2 separate regions of the Homo sapiens genome follow, and region 1 is linked to region 2. The links come from fine-mapping of genetic effects on gene expression. A gene starts in region 2. The other region holds a variant in brackets. All regions are shown on one strand. Distances are from middle to middle. Region 1 overlaps BMPR2 (bone morphogenetic protein receptor type 2). Region 2 holds the start of BMPR2 (bone morphogenetic protein receptor type 2).

Region 1 (10,798 bases), 110 kb after region 2:
ACCATTCTACTTAGAATAAAGAACTTTAAGACTGGGCATGGTGGTTTACACCTATAATCCCAGCACTTTGGCAAGCCAAGGCAGGAGAATTGCTTGAGTCCAGGAGTTCAGGATCAGCCTAGGCAATATAGTGAGACCCTGCCTCTACAAGAAATTTTTAAAAAAATTAGCTGGGTGTGGTGGTGCACGCCTGTAGTGCCAGCCACTCAGGAGTCTGAGGTGGGAGGATCACCTGAGCCCCAGGGAGATGGAGGCTACAGTGAGCTGTGTATTCTCATGGGTCTTATATTTTGAAAGAAATTATGCTGTACAAATTATACTTATTATAATTGATTTCCCCATTTTTATTAATAAAAAAATGCCTGCCTAATAGAGCTTTTTATCCGCATGATAGCAAACTATTTTTTAATTATGTTCTGAAAATAAAATTTTACTTAAGCAAAGACACCTGGCATATGTAAGCCTATGAAGCTTTATTATGCATAAATAAGTTTGATTTTCAAGAGGTTTTTTTTTCTAACACTGAAAGTAACTTAGTCTGTTTTATAATAGTCATCTAGGAACTTAATGGCTAAAGAAGACCCCAGGTTGGGCACTTCTAATGAATTTGTAGACTGAAAATTGAGAATTCTGTATAATGAATCAGATTCATACATCAGAGTTAATACTAACAAGAATTTGAACATAATAATTTTCCTGGAATAGTAAGTAGTTTGTCTTTATATCACTAATAAATAATGATCAGATTTCCATGAAACTTGAATTACAGTTAAAAAATCAATAAGATAAAAACGTAGAGGATAATATTTGAGGCTGCTTCTCTATCACAAATCAATGCAAACGCCAGAACACTGCTATAAAGTCAAGTGTTCTATTCTGAAGGGTTTACTTTGCCTGTATTGCACCACAATCAAGTTATACTTTTTGTATTTTTCTGAACTGGTCTGGGTTCAGTTTCCTCGAAGAAAATACCACCTAGCTAGTTTATGTAAGAAAGGACAGCAAATTATTAAAATGATTGCAGAATTGTTGAGAGCACTTGAATAATGATCCTCAAACTTTAGCATTAATCAGTATCAGTTTGGAGGCCCTTGAAAACAGATTGTTGGCCCCACCCTCAAGATTTTTTTACTATAGGGGTGCACCACCAACACCCGGCCAATTTTTGTAATTTTAGGAGAGATTGGGTTTCGCTATTTTGGCCAGGCTGGTCTTGAACTTTTGACCTCAGGTGATTAGCATGCCTCACCCTTCCAAAGTGCTGGGATTGCAGGCGTGAGCCTCCGCATGCCACTGCGCCCAGCCTATTTCCAGTATAATCTTGTCATTAGTGCTCCCCATCATGTATTTATTCATGTATCCATTCATTCATTCAACAGGTATTGAATACACACTATGCATGCAAGCCACTTTCAAATATTGGCAATAAAGAGGTGAATACGATTTTGTTTCTCATTCTCTTTATTATCCCTATCCGTGAACTCCTGTTGAGGGTATAAAGGTGAATATGTCAGGAAGGAATATGGGTAGATTGGAATATTGTAATTATGCCAATAATTACAATATTATGACATAAGTGCTGACAGTATTATAAAGCATTTTATAAATACTGAAAATTGTGTGAGTTCAGGTGTTTATATGTATATTCTTAATATTTTAAAAATAAAACATCTTTTGAAAAAGGTGAGAACCACCCTTAGACTGTTTTTTAAAATGTGAAATTTACTGTCTTAACCTTTTTAAACAAAAAAACAAAAAAACAGAGTCAGGTTCTCACTCTGTCTCCCAGGCTGGAGTGCGGTGGCATGATCATAGCTCACAGCAGCCTCAAACTCCTGGGCTCAAGTGATCCTCCCACTTCAGCCTCCCTAGTAGCTAGAATCTTTTTTTTAATGTTTTGTAGAGACAGGGTCTTGCTGTGTTCCTCAGGATGGTCTCAAGCTCCTGGCTTCAAGCAATCCTCCTGCCTCGGCCTCCCAAAGTGCTAGAATTACAGGTGTGAGCCAGCATGCACAGAGTTTAACCATTTTTAAAAATATAAAATTTACTCTCATAGTAATTTTTAAGTGCACAGTTTAGTAGCATTAAGCACATTCACATTATTGTGTAACCAACCTCCAGAACTCTTTTTGTCTTGCAAAACTGAAACTCTATACCCATTAAACAACTCACCAATCTCCCCTGCTCCCAACCCTTGGCAATTACCATTCCACTTTGTGTCTGATGAATTTTACTACTTGAGATACCTCATATAAGTGGAATCATAAGGTATCTGTCTTTTTGTTACTTTTTTTTTTTTTTTTTGAGGTGGAGTTTTGCTCTTGTCGCCCAGGCTGGAATGCAACGGCACAATCTCAGCTCACTGCAACCTCTGCCTCCTGGGTTCAAGTGATTCTCCTGCCTCAGCCTCCCGAGTAGCTGGTATTACAGGTGGCTGCCATTACACCCAGCTAATTTTTTGTATTTTAAGTAGAGATGGGGTTTCACCATATTGACCAGGCTGGTCTCAAACTCCTGACATCAGGCGATCCACCCTCCTTGGCTTCCCAAAGTGCTGGGATTACAGGCGTGAGCCACCACGCCCGGCCTTTGTTGTTCTTTTGTACCATTTTGTGTACTGTTTTTCAGATTTTAAAGTAAATGGAGATATGAAAAAAGAAAAACAAAGTTAAGGGAACGAAAAGCAAGGAATAAGACAATTATAAAAGTAAAGACAGTGGTGATTAATTTAAGTCACAATAGATGGAATTCCTATATAACCTAGAGAGAAAGTTAGAATATAATTGGACTAAGAAGAAGGTGCTGAAGATAGAAGTAGATTTAAAGTTGTAGTTTAAGGTTTATACATCTCACAAGTGGTAAATAAATGTTGATCTTTAGGAATATTACATATCTTACCCCACAAAACAACTGAAGTGCTGTGTTTTAAATAAACAAACATGATTAATTTTAACAGTGTTAAAAATTCATTTTATAGTTAGTAGTGGGATTCTGGGCATTACTTACAGACTCCTTTGTTTGGATAAAATTTTGTCTACAATTGTGAGAAAAACATGGACAGAATTTTTAGAAAATTGAAAGTTTTATATGTTGACACACACCTACGTAAGATGTTACATGGGCAGTAGTAGGCATACTAATATATCAGTCAGCTGTTGCTGATAATACTTCATCAGCAAGCCACCCCTAAGCTCAGTGGCTTTAACAACAAGCATTTATTCTCATAATCATAGGTTTGTAGAACAGCTGGATTTTGGCTGATCTAGGCAGGACTCAGCTTCAGGCTTCAGGATCAATTCATATCTTTTTGTCTGGGACCCACGATCAAGGGGCAACATTTACTCAAGCTTCTATCAATAGTGGATTGCCTGCTCATAAGAAGTGCAAACGCAGCTACCCAAGCATATTTTAGATTTCTGCTCGCCTTATATTTGTCAGCTTCTCATTGGTCTGATCAAGTTATGTGGCCAGATTCAAAGTCAAGGGGCAAGGAGGTACACTCCATCTATCACGAGGCCGTGGCAGAAGGTGGATATATTTTCATTATAGGGAAGTGACAATTTTAGGAAGTAAAGAGAGTTACCTTCTAAAGTCAAAAGGTATGTACACACACACACACACACGAGGTTGTACTAAATATATAGCTACTCAAAGATATGTATATATACACAAATGCACACACACAAGTATGTATTGGAACCTATACATTTAGTACCACTTATTTTTTGTGTATGGTATACATTCATTTCCTTGAAAATGAAAATAAGTTCTTTGCATGTAAGAATGGACATCCAAAATGTACCCACAATGATATAAATAAAAAATACTTTTCTCACTCTGCTAGCTTTTACTTTTGTCTGTTTTTGTTTTATTTTGTTTTAAAACCAAGATAGAGTTGGATTAAAAATAGAACTTCCTGCATATGCCAGAATTTCTCCAGTGCTTCTAAGCAGGACATGTGAATGCCTCTGAGACAGGTTTGCAGACAGAAATATGTACAGGGAGAAAGAAGAGAACATAAAAGAATAGGAAGGGTAAAGAGTAGGATTAGGGAAAAGAAGTGTCTGTTTTAGAGATCAAGTACCAGCAACAATTAATCTAAACTCCCCTTAGGGTCATCAGTGCCCTTGATATTGTTACTTCCTTACTCTCACTATATAAGGAGTATGGTTTGTAGGATCTGAGCAATGTTTTTTTGTTTTTGTTTTTTGTTTTGTTTTTTGTTTTTTGTTTTTGGAGACAGAGTCTTCTTCTTGCCCAGGCTGGAGTGCAGTGGCACAATTTTGACTCACTGCAACCTCAGCTTCCCAGGTTCAATTGATTCTCCTACCCGAGTAGCTGGGATTACAGGCATGCACCACTATGCCCGGCTAATTTTTGTATTTTTGGTAGAGATGGGGTCTCGCCATGTTGCCCAGGCTGGTCTGGAACTCCTGGGCTCAAGCAGTCCTCCCACCTCAGCCTGCTGAGTAGCTGGGACTACACAGATGCGCCACTACACCCGGCTAATCTTTTAATTGTTTGTAGAGATGGGGTCTTGGCAGGTTGTCTAGGCTGGTCTTGAACTGCTGGGCTTAAGTGATCCTCCCGCCTTGGGCTCCCAAAGTACTGAGATTGCGGTCATGAGCCACTGCTCCGAGCCCACCCTACCTCTTTATTCCCAAGCTTTTCTGTCTATTCTGTTCCTTCCCTAAGTACGTCTCTTTTTTTATTTTTTATTTTTTTTTGAGATGGAGTTTCACTCTGTCCCCCAGGCTGAAGTACAGTGGCACGATCTCGGCTCACTGCAACCTCCGCCTCCCGGGTTCAAGCAATTCTCTTGTCTCAGCCTCCAGAGTAGCTGGGATTACAGGCACCCACCACTACACCCAGCTAATTTTTGTATTTTTAGCGGAGACCAGGTTTCATGATATTGGTCAGGTCAGGAGATCCACCCGCCTCAGCCTCTCAAAGTGCTGGAATTACAGGCATGAGGCACCACGCCTGGCCAGGTGCATCTTTTACTAACTCTGGCCTGCCTTATTGCTGACTACTGCCTCTAGTGCCAAAAGAGAAACAACTAGAGGATGTACAGCCTATTTGTCTGCTTCATTTAAAATTCTTCTCTTAGCAACAAAATTAAAGTCCTAAATATAACTAAAAAATCAAATGTATACATTTGTGGAATGTAAAAGGAATTACACACAATGTTCTTTTTATTGTCATTATAGTCCCCAGGCTCCTTACAAGGAAAAGTAGCTACATTTGTTACATAGAAAAACAGCCCTGAATTATTTTCAGCTACATACAAACACCATGGTTAAATCTTCAAAACATATTACTGAACTGAAGAAGCAAGGCACAAAAATTCCATTTATATAAAATTCAGAAATAGGCAAAAAAACTCAGCATTCAGTGATAGTAATACTATTAAGAAAAGCAAGGAAATGATTACCACAGAAGTCAGAATAGTGACTATTTCTGGGGCAGAGGAAGGATGTTAGGAACAGGTAGGAGCAGGTAGGAGACTTTTGGGACCCTTGGTGTTGTATTTTGTGGCCTTGGTGCTAGTTACATAAGTGTTTGCTTCATCATGATTCACCAAGCTCTGCATTTTGTATTATAAACATTTTCGTGTATAATGCTTATACATTATACACGAAAATGTATATAATTTTGTGGGTTATATTTTGTAAGGTTTAAAAAATGGAAGTCAGGATGGGCGGTTACAAGTGGTGACTCACGCTTGTAATCCCAGCACTTTGGTAGGCCTACGCAGGCAGATCACTTGAGACCAGGAGTTCGAGACCAGCCTGGCCAACATAGCAAAACCCCTTCTCTACTAAAAGTACAAAAATTAGCCAGGTGTGGTGGCAGGCACCTCTAATCCCAGCTACTTGGGAGGCTGAGGCAGGAGAATCACTTGAACCCAGGAGGCAGAGGTTGCAGTAAACAGAGATCCCGCCATTGCACTCTAGCCTGGGCGACAATAGCGAAGCTCTGTCTCAAAAAAAAAAAAAAAAAAAAAAACCAAAAAAAAAAACAAAAAGGAAATCAGTGTGCGAAGTGGGAAAGCTAGAGCAAGGGAAACAACTAGGAAACAGACCAGGAGAAATTTAATGGGGAAAAAAAGTTATTTGTTTTTCTCCAAATATCTATCTTGTTTTCCTTATAAGAGAGCAAAGGTTACTATGATAATTAAAATAACATAAAATGAATTGAGGGAGTTGCCTGCTGATGTGATTCATATTTTGTTGTTCAATCAGTAAATAACTGGAAGATACAGCTTTCACTTTGATAGTCAAATTAGTTCATGGTCATTTTCTGAAAACAGTTCTTGAGTATGGATTCTGAATTTAGAACTGTCATTTTGTAGAGCAGTTAGGAAAATTGACGAGGGATCTTTGAGTGACATAGTCTTTGGTTTAGTTCTATATTGTGAGTCTCGTGAATTTTCTGTATTGTGAATTTTATTTTTAATTTGTTTTGTTTTAAATAATGACTATTATAGTGACTAGGTTTCCATTTTTCTAGTGGTAACTTTAGGCTTAAATGGACATTTCTTACTCAATTAGGTTATTGGTGTTTTCTAAGAATCATTAAATACTTTTTTTTTAAAGTTGTATAGAGTAACAGACTCTGTTCTATCATATCTAAAAAGTACAATCTTAGTACAATAGAGGTAATTAAAGTAGAATTATACCAAAAATACTTTGAGAGCATATTTAATGGTGTTTTCTTTATTCTTCGATGAAATGTTTTGATGTACAATGGTCTGCAAATTAATTCTTCTATTT[T/C]TCTTGTATTTTTAAAATTCCTAGTCTGTTTACTTAAATGTGATCTTTCCATTTTTTATTTAATGATTTTATTCCAATCAAATATAATTAACTGTTTTAATTCATTCTTTAATAAAATAAACAAATTGCTGAAATTGTCTCTCCTAATCATAAAATAGCTATTTAAAATACACTCTAAAGAAATTAAAATTGTAAATACTTATGGAGCTAAAAGTTAAGGAGGAGGGGCACTGAATGTTTTTCCCATTTTTTCATGTCTTTTCTAACCTTTTGGCGGGGGTGGAATTTAACTTTAGACTGTTATTTCTCTCTCTTCTTCAGTTTTTCACTGTTTCTTTCATAATTCACTCATCGAATGCCTTGATTCAATTAGCCAAGTATGGGCTATTTTTTTTGTTGTTATTTTTTGCTTTTTCTTCCAAGCTAGATCTATTCAAAATGATTAACAAGTTAAATTTAAACCAGTCTTTCATATTCAGTATTAACTACTTGTTTGAAAAAACAAGAAATCTGCCCCCTCTCAATTTTTTAGGGCATTAAATGTAAACATTAGTCTGATTATGATTACTGCCATTCCAAACATATTAATTAAAAGCAACGTTTATTTCCTATAAAAACATTTGTTCAAAACATTGAGCTCCACAATAAATCATAGTACAGAAACAATATCATAACAATTTGGATTATTTTGCTAATGAATTCACTTAACTGATCACATCGTTTTGGATTTAAATGTTTTTCTCTACTTGTATGAAAGCTACATTGCTTGAAAACTACAAAAACTAATCCCCAATTTGCCTTTCTACACAGTGGTAAAAGATTAAGGAGCTGACATAACCACTAGTGTGTTATATTTAAGCTTCCCTTTGCTGCTTGCTGCACATGTTACAATGTTGTTCTTTCTTTGACACAGACCCAGACAAAAGCTGAGTGTAGCAAGGAAACAGACAGAACGCCTCCAGTAGTGGCCCCCGCCTGGCTCCAGGATTTGTAAACAGAAACATCCCAGGCTCCAATGAGACAGACAGAGGTTCCCTGTCTGTTCTGCATTCAGGAAGTGTTTGCTTGTATAAGCCCAACTATTGCACAGGCATACATAGTAGTGTTTACATTTGGCTGAGTATTTAACTGAGAAAACTTAATAGGGAAGAAAAAGAGGGTTTATTAGAGGTAGGAGAACAAGACAATTCAGGTATAACATAGATGTAGCATATGTTATGTAAAAAGGTTTTTTTATTTTGAAGAAATAGACAACAAAAAATAGGAGTTTTCTAGTTAAAGGCCTCTTTTGCACGTACACGTGAATACACATATTGAAATATTTTTCCTGGCAGTTTTTCAGGGATCTCATATTTTTAGACCATGTGACAGAGGCTTGGAAAGTTTTTATTTGAAATTTAACCAATCATATGGTTTATAATGAAATGGGAAAAGTTCCCTTGTCCTGACAGGGTGCGTGATGCGGGGTGTGGCTCACTTCTTAAGTGCCCCGCTGCTCAGACCTCTAGGGGACCATACAGACAGGTAGGCTGTGGGGCTCCGACCTCACAACAGTGTCTAGGAGTGAATGTTTACAGCTCCTGAATCCGCAGTGGGCGTGTGTTACAGGGTGCTCTTTTAGTTTGCCATCTATAGGCGGCTTGTGTTAGCTCAATTAGACCCCCTTCCTTATCACAAGGACAGAGGGATTTCTGTATCCCAGGGTTTCCTGCCTTGGTGTACGGGAAGAGTCGGCTCACACCTGGGCTTGGAGAATGAGTGCAAGGTTTATTAGTAGAAGTAGCTCTCAGCAGATGGGGGAACCAGAAGGGAGATGGTTTTCTCCTGGAGTTGGGCCGCTTGGTGGCCAGGGCTCTCCTCCGTCTGCCCCAGCCAAACTCCGCGTCGTTGTCGTTCTGTCGACGGCCTGCCGGCGTGCGGGTGCCTATCGTTGTGCTCTTCTGCTGGCGTGCTCCTCTCGACGACCAGCCACTTTCTTCCGCCGATGTGCTCCTCTTTACGTCTGGCCGCCTGTGTGTCTGCCTGCTAGGGTCTCGGGTTTTTATAGGCCCAGGATGGGGACATGGCGGGTCCGGGTGGTCTTGGAAATGCAACATTTGGACGGGAAAGCAGGAGTGCCTGTCCTCACCTAGGTCTGTTGGGGTGGAGCCCTAGTCAGGGACGCACCTTTCTCTACCCATTACTTACCTCCCCACTTCCGTGTCATTTAAGGAGGGCACACTGTTCCCTTCCCAGCACTATAACATGTTTAAAATGTTTTAAAACTTTTTTCATTCTCTCCAATATATGAATTAATAATCCATTTCAGATTTTGAATTAATGAATGTTTAATGTAAAAGTTTTGTTAAATTTTCTTTTATAAATTTGAGAATAAAAGCAAAGAATGCTGAGCCTTCAAAAAACTGTATGAGAAGACTCATTATACAGAGTTTTGGAAGTAGGAGGACCTTAAAAGTCACTTACAAGATCACTTATTTTTATTTTATAGTTTAATGTATTTTAGTAACAAACAGGAACAGCAAAAAGACAGCGTTAAAAACGTGCTTGAATGTAGGACAACTCAAAAAAGTAGAGTGAACAGATGGAACCTACTCTATGATTAAAATGCTGCAAACATCATTTAGTTGCTGTCAATAAGAAATTTACTTATTTTCCAAAAATCCAAATGCAGGCATTATCCAGAAAAATTTAACAGGTTTATTTATAATTGTTATGGCCAGGCATGGTGGTTTATGCTTGTAATTCCAGCACTTTGGGAGGCCAGGACAGGCAGATTGCTTGAGCCCGGGAGTTTGAGACCATCCTGAGCAACATGGCAAAACCCTGTCTCTACAAAAAATAAAAATTAGCCAGACATGGTGGCATGAGACCAGATGCTTGGGAGGCTGAGGTGATAGGATCGCTTGAGCCTGGGAGGCTGAGGCTGTAGTGAGCCATGGTCATACCATTGCACTCCAGCCTGAGCGACAAAGTGAGACCCTGTCTCAAAAACAAAAACAAAAAAAAATCAAAAGAACAAATTAAATAATTGTTATGAAGTTGAACTTCTAAAACTTGTTCACTGAAATGTTTTGACCCGCATTAATGCTTTATGTCCCACATTTATATTGAAAATCCACATGCAAATAAAAATGGAAAAACCACCAATACCTCATTTCTGTTCCTTATTTTTTCACTTACAATCTTATACTTAGGTGCCTTTTGACCCTATGGGGAAAAAATAATGTTCAGAACTACTGAGAGGTGACAGCGTGCTGGCAGTCCTTACCGCCCTCGCTCGCTCTCAGCGCCTCCTCTGCCTGGGCTCCCACTTTGGCAGCACTTGAGGAGCCCTTCAGCCCACCACTGCACTGTGGGAGCCACTTTCTGGGCTGGCCGAGGCCGGAGCCCACTCCTTCAGCTTGCAGGGAGGTGTGGAGGGAGAGGCGCGAGCAGGAACCAGGGCTGCGTGCCACGCTTGCGGGCCAGCTGGAGTTCCGGGTGGGCATGGGCTTGGCGGGCCCCGCACTCGGAGCAGCCGGCCAGCCCTGCCGGCCCCAGGCAATGAGGGGCTTAGCACCCGGGCCAGCGGCTGCGGGGGGTGCACTGGGTCCCCCAGCAGTGCCAGCCAACCGGCACTGCTCTTGATTTCTCACCGGGTCTTAGCTGCCTTCCCGCGGGGCAGGGCTCGGGCCTGCAGCCCGCCATGCCTGAGCCTCCCACCCCCTCCATGGGCCCCTGTGCGGCCCGAGCCTCCCCGATGAGTGCCGCCCCCTGCTCCACGGCGCCCAGTCCCATTGCCAAGCGGTGAGACAATCGCTGAGCGGTGAGAGCATCACCTATCCGCAAGCAGTGAGTACCATCGGACCCCTTTCGCTTGCTATTCTGTCCTGTCTTTCCTTAGAATTCGGGGGCTAAATACCGGGCACCTTATTGGCCAGTTAAAAGTGACTAGCGCAGCTGCCAGAGTAAAGACACGGGTGTCAGGCTTTCTGGGAAAGGGCTCTCTAACAACCCCCGACTCTTCGGAGTTGGGACCATTG
Region 2 (10,798 bases):
GGTTTGGGGGGTCTTTTAGGTGTACCTTAAAGTGTTAGCAGACACAGATTAGGACAATGCTGAAAGGCCAGCCCAGCTCCAGAATTCCTGCAGGATTGATTGATGCCTCAGTTGCAAATGTGTTGCAATTCAACTTCTCCCTCTGCCCAGTCTTGCATCCCTCAATCCCCACAGAGGTTGCTCTTGCCATCATTAGGTAATAACCTCCTGCATACAAATTTCAGAGTTTCAGTGTCTATTTCCTGTGAACTCAAGTTGCGATGGGTCCCCTGATGACTTATATCAAACATGTAACATGTGTGAGAAATAAACCTTTATTGCAATAAGATGCTGAGATTTGGTGAATGTTACTGTAATTTAGCCCATCCTAATTAGTACAGATGCCAAACCTCACCTGCATCACCAGTCCTTTGTTCTCAGCTGAGCTTGACTTACATTGTCTGCCTTTTGTCGTGGACAGGTTTCTTGCCAAGTCTTAATTCTGTTCTTTGATGTTCTTTCTCACTGTGAGTGAACAGCCATGTCCCAACTGAAATATCACAAGAAGGAACAGAAAAGGGAAGAGGGTACATATCTAGTTGTCTACCTACCAAGTCAGCGGCATGTGTTTTTTCTTGTGAATTTCCTAAGACCTTTTCTTTATGTTCTATATAATTTATCATACATTTATAACATGTACGGTAGTCCTCCCTGCCCCTTATCCACAAGGAACTTGTTCCAAGACCTCCAGTGGATGCCTGAAACTGCAGACAGTACTGAACCCAATTGCTATAAACTGGAATACATTTCTATTATGTCTTCTACCCACAAATTTAATGCCTTTTCCATCTTAACTAAGCACTTATTACACATTGTGGCCATCACTTTTGCAGTTTGAGGTATGGCAGCAAAACTAGCATGAATTTATTTTTTCTTCACAATTCAGTTTCACAGATAGATTTTTTTTTTTTTTTTTGCCAGAGTCTCTATCGCCCGGGCTAGAGTGCAATGGGCAACCTCCACCTCCTGCGTTCAAGTGATTCTCTTGCTTCAGCCTCCGGAGTAGCTGCTGGGATTACAGGCACGTGCCACCACTCCCAGCTAATTTTTGTATTTTTGGTATAGACGGGGTTTCACCATGTTGGCCAGGCAGGTCTTGAACTCTTGACCTCAAGTGATCCTCCTGCCTTGGTCCCCCAAAGTGCTGGGATTACAGACGTGAGCCACTGCACCCTGCCAAAGATTCATTGTTACCAGCAATCTTAGCAACCTCAGCCTATAATTTTTTTCCCTCCTTATTAAGTCAAGAACTCTGACTTTTTTTTTTTTTTTTTTTTTTTTTTTTTTTTTTTTTTTGAGACAGAGTCTTGCTCTGTCGCCCAGGCTGGAGTCCAGTGGCATGATCTCGGCTCACTGCAAGCCCCACCTCCCGGGTTCATGCCATTCATTCACTGCCTCAGCCTCCCGAGTGGCTGGGACTACAGGCGCCTGCCACCACGCCTGGCTAATTTTTTTGTATTTTCAGTAGAGACAGGGTTTCACCGTGTTAGCCAGGATGGTCTCGATCATCCTGACCTTGTGATCTGCCTGCCTCGGCCTCCCAAAGTGCTGAGATTACAGGCAAGAACTCTGACGTTTTAACTTACAGGAAGCACTTTACAGCTTCTGTATGGCTGAATTGCCAGCATCACTACTCTTGTGCTTTGGGGCCATTATTAAGTAAAACGAGGGTTAGTTGAACACAAGCACTTGGATATTGCATACTGCCACAGTCAGTCTGATAAGAGACTGCTACTAAGTGATTAAGGAGGTTATAGCGGATACACTGTACAAACCATGATTCACATCCCAGAAGGACAGTGTGGGATGGCAGCGATTTCCTCACAGCTAGTTAGTAACAGTACTCAATTTAAAATTTATGAGGCCAGGCGCAGTGGCTCACGCCTCTAATCCTATCATTTTGGGAGGCCAGAAGGGCGGATCACCTGAGGTCAGGAGTTCGAGACCAGGCTGACCAACATGGTGAAACTCCATCTCTACTAAAAATACAAAACTAGCCGGGTGTGGTGGCGCATGCCTGTAATCCCAGCTACTCAGGGGGCTGAGGCAGGAGAATCGCTTGAGTCTGGGAGGCGGAGGTTGCTGTGAGCTGAGATCGTGCCATTGTGCTCCAGCTTGGGCAACAAAAGAGAAACTACGTCTCAAAAAAAACAAAAACAACAACAACAAAAAAAAACACCACTTATTATTTCTGGAACTTTCCATGTAATATTTTCAGACCGTGGTTGACTGCAGGTAACTGAAACGGTGGATAAGGGGGAACTACAAAAAGGACACTTAATGTTTCTTGGAAAAAATCTTAAGCAAATAAAAATTGAATGATGAAGTACTTGATCTCAATTTGAGGAAGATAAAAGTGTACTACGAATTAATAAACTTTAAACTTTCTGCACCTCTAACATACTAAAATCCAATTTCTCTGAGTGCTAGAAACTCTCAGTTCTTGAAAGACAAATGGTAAAACAATACCGTTTCTAATTTAGACCTTTTGGGCAAAACAAAATACAGTAATAAAGCTATAAAGAATCGGTCGGGGGCGGTGGCTCACGTCTGTAATCCCAGCACTTTGGGAGGTCGAGACGGGCGGATCACGTGAGGTCAGGAGTTCGAGACCAGCCTGGCAAACATGGTGAAACCCTGTCTCCACTAAAAATACAAAAATTAGCCGGGCGTGATGGCGCCGCCTGTAATCTCAGCTACTCGGGAGGTTCAGGCCGGAGAATTGCTTGAACCTGGGAGGTGGAGGTTGCAGTGAGTCGAGATCGCGCCACTGCACCGCAGCCTGGTCGACAGAGCAAGACTCCGCCTCAATAAATAAATAAATAAATAAATAAAACCTAAATAAATAAAGCTAATGAATCAAAGCATATGCTCTTCGTCTTTTTAAGGGATTTTACTAGGTAGAATTTTTTTTTCTCTGTCTAAAGGGTAAACAGCATAAACATATTTCAACTAAAAAGAGTCTTAGAATCCGGGGTTGGTATTGCTACAACCCCTAATTATGGAAGATGTTTAGTATAACAGAACCAGTTTAAGGAATGTGGAGATTTATTTACATCAAATTCAGATAAAGAGGTAACAGCGGACTAGAAGAAGCAAGCAGAGCATGACTTAAGGAGTCTATCTATGACTGTATCTGTGGAACTGCCCTTAGCCACAATGAAAGACCAGCAAAACCAGCCTTCAGCATAACCCTCCTGCCTGGTAGGAGATGGGAAGGCCAGACTTCACCCCTCAAGATCGCCCTCCCACGCGCATTTTCCACCTCGCAGCTAAGAATTCAGTCCAGACTTCCGATCATGGCGCCACGCACGTCACCTTCTCCCCTCGCCGCCAGCAAAATCCCACCCACGTCGGCTGACCCCGCAGCGGGGTGTAAGGGCGGGAGGGATCCCGTCTCCTATACTGGTCGCTTGTACAAACCAGATCCAAAAAACGCACTACACAAATCCTTGGAAACTGCGGTACCAACGGGATCTTCTCAATTCCTTGAGTGCAAAATGATCCCACTCTCTATCCCGACACAACTCTAACTCCATTTTCCTTTCACGTGCCCTAAAAAGCCCTCAAGGCCCCCAGCCTTGGTGAATCCAGGCCCTCTCTCGGGGTGGGCACCGCGCTGTACGGACAGACGCGCGCACGCAGCGGGACGATTTATAGAATTAAAAGTCTTTTTTTTTTTTCTGGCTTCGCATCCTTGCAAATACTCAATATTCCTGTCAACTAAGAAGGCTAAGGGAATGGGCGGTTGAGGAAAGCAGGACGTCGATTACAGCGAACACATCAAAGGGGTGGTCTTTCCAATTCCGGCTTTTGTTTGAGTCAGAGGGGAGCCTGAGGAGGCCAAGGTCTCCGGTTCTGGGAAAGGCGGGTCCATCCGGATTCTTTGGGCTGCGGAGAGGGAGGTTCCAGCCCCGTGAAACAACAGAGGGCAGTTCTGCCCCTCGAGGCTTTCCTCCGAGAGTACTGAGACGGAGACGCCTCAGTCGGGAGAAATCCCGGAACTCGGAGGAGTCTGCTGAACGCCGAACAAAAGGATGTGGCCGTCGTCTCTTAAACAAATACGCGAATCCCAAGCCATGCACATTTGGAAGGCATGTGTATGTGTGTGAAGGAGAAAGGCCACCGCTGCCCACCGCAGCCCCACCCAGCCCTCGGCCATTCACCGGAGAGACGCGCTGCGGTGGGGCCTCGGAGCCCTCAGCCAGCCCCGAACGAGGGGCGGGGCCGGGCGGGGCCGTGAGCGCGCAGGCGCAGTGCGGGCTTCATCCCGCCGCCGGCGCCGCCGCCGCCGCCGCCCGCTCTGCACCACAGGCTAGAGACAGACAGGGCCGGGAAGAGCCGGAGACTGAGGAGGAGGCGGAGGCGGCGGCGGAGGCGGGGCGACTCCGGTGACCGGGAGCGCCGCAGACTGGCAGCTGCGGCGACTCCCCCCTTTGTGTCTGGTCTGCTCGGAGCCACTGGAAGTGCCTCCCGGAGGGACGCAGGGTGTCTCGCCGCCTCCCTGCCCACCCCCTTCCCCGGCTACCTTCATCCGCCCTCCCGCCGCCCCCCGCCCTCGGTCCGCGACGCCCGAGTTCCGTCAGGAGCCCAGAGCTGCGGGAGAACGAGGCGGCGGCGGCGGCGGCGGCGGCGGCGGCGGCGGCAGCAGCAGCGGCTTCCTCGGGGGGTTGTGATTCGCTCACAGGAGCCATTGACGGGAGAAGAGGAGGCTTTCTTGGTGGAATTTACCTCAGGCAAGATCGAGCCGCAGGAATAAAAAGCGAGGAAGGGAAGGGAGCGCCGCCGGGAGGACTAGAAGGGGCAGCCTCTCACACCCACTCCGCCTGCCGTCTCGGGGAGCCCGGACCGGGGCCGCGACCGCGACCCCTCCCCTCCCCCGCTCCTACCTCTCCTCAGCCTTCGCCAGGGCCTCCCCAACCCTCTCACGGTTGTTCTGCGAAGGCGTGGGGACTGTGAGCTTGTCCATGGAGGCAGGCACCTTTTTTGATCCAGTCAAGGAAGAGGATTTGTTGTTTTCGAAATCAGAGTGAAGGAAGCACCGAAGCGAAACTTAAGGAATCCTGCCTTCCCGGAGCCGCGGGCGATGCGACTAGGGCTGCCGGGCGCCGCCGCCGCCCGTCCGGCTTCGTCCTTCCCGGCAGTCGGGAACTAGTTCTGACCCTCGCCCCCCGACCCCGGATCGAATCCCCGCCCTCCGCACCCTGGATATGTTTTCTCCCAGACCTGGATATTTTTTTGATATCGTGAAACTACGAGGGAAATAATTTGGGGGATTTCTTCTTGGCTCCCTGCTTTCCCCACAGACATGCCTTCCGTTTGGAGGGCCGCGGCACCCCGTCCGAGGCGAAGGAACCCCCCCAGCCGCGAGGGAGAGAAATGAAGGGAATTTCTGCAGCGGCATGAAAGCTCTGCAGCTAGGTCCTCTCATCAGCCATTTGTCCTTTCAAACTGTATTGTGATACGGGCAGGATCAGTCCACGGGAGAGAAGACGAGCCTCCCGGCTGTTTCTCCGCCGGTCTACTTCCCATATTTCTTTTCTTTGCCCTCCTGATTCTTGGCTGGCCCAGGGATGACTTCCTCGCTGCAGCGGCCCTGGCGGGTGCCCTGGCTACCATGGACCATCCTGCTGGTCAGCACTGCGGCTGGTGAGTAGCTCCGGCCGGCACGTCCCGGCCACTGCCCCTGCGGGTGGCGAGGGAGGGAGCCCGCAGAGGCCGAGGCCTGTGCTTGCCCTTCGCCATGCGTCCCCCCGATCGCGGTGCAGCGGAGCTGCGACCCGGTGCCTGCGCGCCTGCCCCATGCCTTCCAGGGAAATCGCCTTTAATATTCTTGTGTATTTTCCTATCCCCACTTCCATATTCCCACCCCACCCCCCTTTACGGGGTGAAAAAGACATATTGGGTGTGGTATCTTGACATTTTTAGCTGTGAGGTAATGCAACGATTAAAAATAATATTTTAATCACCAGTGAACAGTGCTTATTATGAGATCTCTGGAAACAGACCTGTAGATTTTTAAAATTATTATTATAAAGAAGCGGTTTTGGCTTATAGTAAAAAGAACATCAACTAGAGAACACACACTTGAACCTTATTTTGAAATTTAGATCACTCTGGGAATCCATGTTCCTTTCATTATTCAGAAATGTTACCGAATGAATAGAATAAATGTTGAGGAAGCCAGAACTGTGAGATTCTTGATATATTGTATTATACGGTTTGATAACTTTACTGTTAGTCATCTGGCATCTATCTATTGGCTTTGCTGTCGAGACAACTTTGACCTGACATTAGACTTCTAGGAGATTTGACTCCGAAAGTTCTTTGACATTTCACTAAAGTCTAAAGGGTGGTAGTCATCCTTTCCTTTGGATATTTTCATTTCAGTTCTCAGAAACCTTAGGAAAAAGACCTTATCTTCTATTTGCAACTATTTTTTCAAGCAGCCTTTTGGTGATTTGCTTTTAGAAATTTTCAGGAGTGAATTCTACATATAACTCGTACACTTGGTTTATGATGGGCAAATGGATTGTGCTTTTAAAACGAGTAAAGGACCAAATGACCCTTTCGAATTACTTTTTTTCTTTTGATAAGTGTGTTTCACATTAAACAAATTTCTCATTGCTATGTTAGATACAGAGGTTACTTGCTTATTTTCATTTTGAAAGTCTGATCTAGGAAAATGCCGAAGAAAATTTGAAGTTTCCTTTTATGCTTTTGCTATTGTTGAATAATGTCTACTGTTGATTAATGTCTGTTAAATTGATGATAAATCTATATGGTTCTGTTAAAATAATTTGAACTTCTGAGTTTACTTTAAAACTGATATTTTAATATTTTTAATAATTGTAGTTGCTTTCAGAGTAAAAATGATTTTTCTCTAAATTTCTTTATATTGTGTTAGCTATTTAAATTCTCTAGCCATAAGCCATGTGGTTCCTGTAAAATATGGAGTAAAAGGCCTTAAACGTTCCATGAGCAGAAATCTCAGAACATAGGCTTTTCAATGTTATTTGTTATTCTTAACCTTTTTAGAATATAGATTCTCATTTATGATGACGTGCTCATAATATTGTGATCAGAACTGATAAAAGTAAGAGAAAAAGCATTTATTTAAAAATAAACTTAATTTTTGTTTGGTAATACAATCATCTTAGAATAGTGTCTCTTAAAAGGGAGAGAGTAAAAGAATCACTGCTTAAAAGTGGTTGTAGTCTTTTTTTTCTTTGGTATTGCATAGCACCAGATGACAAAATTTGTGAAGCTGGATTTCAGACCTGTAACAGTAATGATAATAGCTAGTATTTATTAAGTGCCTGCCATGCACCATCAGCTATTCAAATAACTTTACATATATTTTTTCATTTCGTCTTCATGACAATTCTATGTTGTAGGTTATTATCATTCCCCTTTTCCATAGAGGGAGAGTAAAGTACAGAGAATTTGAATAACTCACCACACAGTCAGTAAATTATGGAGCCAGGATTATAGTGTGCGCCCTCACATACCACATTAATGGTAACAGCAGCACTAGCAGCAACAACTTCTCATCTTATTGGATATATGAGATGGAGTAATTAGCCTTCACCAGATCAACCTTTGTAAAGAAGCAGGGACACTTACAAGGTGTTAGTGCAGCAGTGGTTATGCAAATGTCGTAGTTCTGAACATGTAAAACTTTGCTTGGCCTAATATTGAAGTGGCTAGTGCAGCTTCATTAAGTGCAAGCTGATTAGAGAGGGCCTGTGTGGATTTGGGTTACACAGATGCAGTGATGTTAACTCGACAGGCGCAAATGGTGCAGCTGAACAGGAAAATAAATCCTAGAAGACTGATTGATAGCACATCCTTTTTCGGGGTCATGGATAAATCATTTCTTTTGATTCCCTCTTTCTCACTTATTGAGTTCTTGGACTCCTTAATTCTTAGAACATTTTCTTTCTTTCTTTCTTTCTTTCTTTCTTTTTTGTTCAGACAGAGTATCACTCTGTCGCCCAGGCTGGAGTGCAGTGGCACGACCCTGGCTCACCACAACTTCCGCCTCCCAGGCGCAAGTGGTTCTCCTGCCTCAGCCTCCAGACTAGCTGAGATTACGGGAGCCCACCACCATGCCCAGCTAATTTATTTTTATTTTTTGTATTTTTAGTGGAGACGGGGTTTCACCATTTTGGCAGGGTGGTTTCGAACTCCTGACCTCGTGATCCACCTGCCTCGGCCTCCCAAAGTGCTGGGATTACAGGCATGAGCCACCACACCCCGCCTAATTCTTAGAACATTTTCTATGCCCCCCCCAAAAAAAAAAACAACTTATGAAAAATAAGATGTGCTGGCTTGGTTTATGAATGAATTCTTAATAAAAGAATACAACACAGCTATTATTTAAAGGTCAACTTCTGTAATGCGTTTTAAATAATTCACTTGATTAGATTGCAATTTTACATACATCTCTTGAGGAACACACACATTATATAAAGTAAGATTAATCTAATGTTAGTGAATATTACTGAGTAACTGAAGTTTAGTAATCTTCATTTTAGTTTTTCTCAAAGTGTGGGTACTGCAACAGAATTACCTGGGGTTCTTGATAAAAATGCATATTTTTGGCCCTATAGTCCAGATGTACTGAATGAATCTCTCTGGGAGAACCCCCGCAAAGTCTCACTCAAGCAGGTGCTTGAGAAGCACTGCTTTATATCATCAGTCCTGATTGTTTGGATTTCTTTCTTTTTTTTTTTTTTTTTGAGTTTTGCTCTTGTTGCCCAGGCTGGAGTGCAATGGTGTGATCTCGGCTCACTGCAACCTCCACCTCCCGGGTTCAAGCAATTCTGCCTCAGCCTCTCGGGTAGCTGGGATTACAGGCATGTGCCACCACTCCTGGCTAATTTTGTATTGTTAGTAGAGACAGGGTTTCTCCATGTTGGTCAGGCTGGTCTTGAACTCCTGATCTCAGGTGATCTGCCCGCCTCGGCCTCCCAAAATGCTGGGATTATAGGTGTGGGCCACTGTGCCTGGCCCTGGCCCTGGCCCTGGCCCTGGCCCTGGCCCTGGATTTCTTTCTTTCTTTTTTTTTTTTTTTTTTTTTTTTTTTGAGACAGAGTCTGGCTCGGTCACCCAGACTGGAGTGCAGTGGCGCCATCTCAGCTCACTGCAACCTCTGCCTCCCGGGTTCAAGTGATTCTTCTGCCTCAGCCTCCCAAGTAGCTGGGACTACAGGTGTGCACCACCACACCCGGCTAATTTTTGTATTTTTAGTAGAGACGTGGTTTTACCATATTGGCCAGGCTGATCTCAAACTCCTGACCTCGTGATCTGCCTGCCTCTGCCTCCGAAAGTGCTGGGATTATAGGCATGAGCCACCACGCCTGGGCTGGATTTCTTAAATATGGTGATTCAGTGACATTTTGCTGTGTAATTATTGGCAACCACAAAATCTTAGTGGCATGCAACAATAGGCATTTATTCTGCTCCATGTGTCTCTTTCTGGGGTCCAGGCTAGAGGGAGAAGTAACATCTATCTGGGGGAGGCTTGTGTCATGGCATTGGCAGAAGTGCAAGAGGCCAAGCCCAACCCTACCAGCACATTTCCAGACTCTGCTCTCCTAACATCCCATTGGCTGACCGAGTCATATGGCTAGGCTAAGCTCAGAAACAAGAGGTATCAAAGTACACTTTGCCTGTGATGAGGCTAATGTAATATTTGGATATATAGTACTATTGCAGAAGAACGAAGAATTGAAATTCTCAGTAGACCACATATAACCAGTAAGATGGTCCAGAAGGGAGGCTTTTCTTACCCTTTGAAGAGGGCCAACCTCTTAATTAGTTTTTTGCATTAAAATGATATAAACTTTGGTCTCTACAAAAGCTATTCTGGCATGTGGGATGATGTGATAGTAGTGGTATTGATGTGGATGAGTAGTGAGGTGAGAGATAACTGTTCACACAAGACAAAACCTTTCCTTCATTAAAGGCCAGTTTTTTTTTTAACAAAAAGAGAAGAAATTGAATATTGATCTCTAATGGGTAAATTCTAACCATTAAAAAAATACTGAGTGGAATCTGTGTGAATCAGTTAATTTTATAATTGGCCACACCACTTATTTTGGCACCTACTCATAGATTGCTGTGCTGCTGGATATCAGTTTTTGTTTTTGTTTTTTTTTTTTTTTTTTTGAGATGGAGTCTTGCTCTGTCACACAGCCTGGAGTGGAGTGGCACGATCTCGACTCATTACAACCTCCACCTCCCAGGTTCAAGCCATTCTCCTGCCTCAGCCTCCCGAGTAGCTGGGATTATAGGTGTGCACCATCATGCCTGGTTAATTTTTGTATTTTTAGTAGAGATGGGGTTTCACTATGCTAGCCAGGCCGGTCTCGAACTCCTGATCTTGTGATCCACCTGCCCTGGCCTCCCAAAGTGCTGGGATTACAGGTGTGAGCCACCACACCCGAAATTTTTTTATTTTTAGTAGAGATGGGGTTTCACCATGTTGGCCAGGCTGGTCTCAAACTCCTTACCTCAGCTGATCCACCCACCTTGGCCTCCCAAAGTGTTGGGATTACAGGTGTGAGCTACCGCACCTGACCAGGTATCAGTTTTATGTATTTGCCTTGTCCTTCCTACTGATAATTGCTTCCAGAGGACAGTATTCATGTCTGATTAGTTTTATAATTTAGTAGACATTTAAGAAATACTTAGTGAATGAATAATAAATAGGAATTTCAACCAGGAATATTCTAGGGTTGTTTATTGACTC

Evidence for each region. PIP is the estimated chance that this variant, and not a neighbour inherited with it, causes the effect. A credible set is the group of variants that fine-mapping cannot tell apart.
Region 1: its variant is the best candidate, but not a certain one, in a credible set for the expression of BMPR2 in whole blood (TOPMed, PIP 0.54).

Annotation. Positions count from the first base shown.
Region 1 is chr2:202,486,715-202,497,512 of GRCh38, forward strand. The region is part of intron 3 of BMPR2 (bone morphogenetic protein receptor type 2); the gene reads left to right. Among named protein-coding and RNA genes, the nearest start is that of BMPR2, 120 kb to the left of the region's middle. The variant T/C (reference allele first, on the strand shown) is at 6,777.
Region 2 is chr2:202,371,863-202,382,660 of GRCh38, forward strand. BMPR2 (bone morphogenetic protein receptor type 2) reads left to right here and starts at 4,465. Exons shown (of 13, transcript NM_001204.7): 1 at 4,465-5,688. The coding sequence starts at 5,613. RefSeq lists enhancers at 3,313-3,472, 3,583-3,872, 5,027-5,810, 5,813-5,882 and silencers at 3,963-4,012, 4,163-4,652, 4,783-4,842, 4,913-4,972.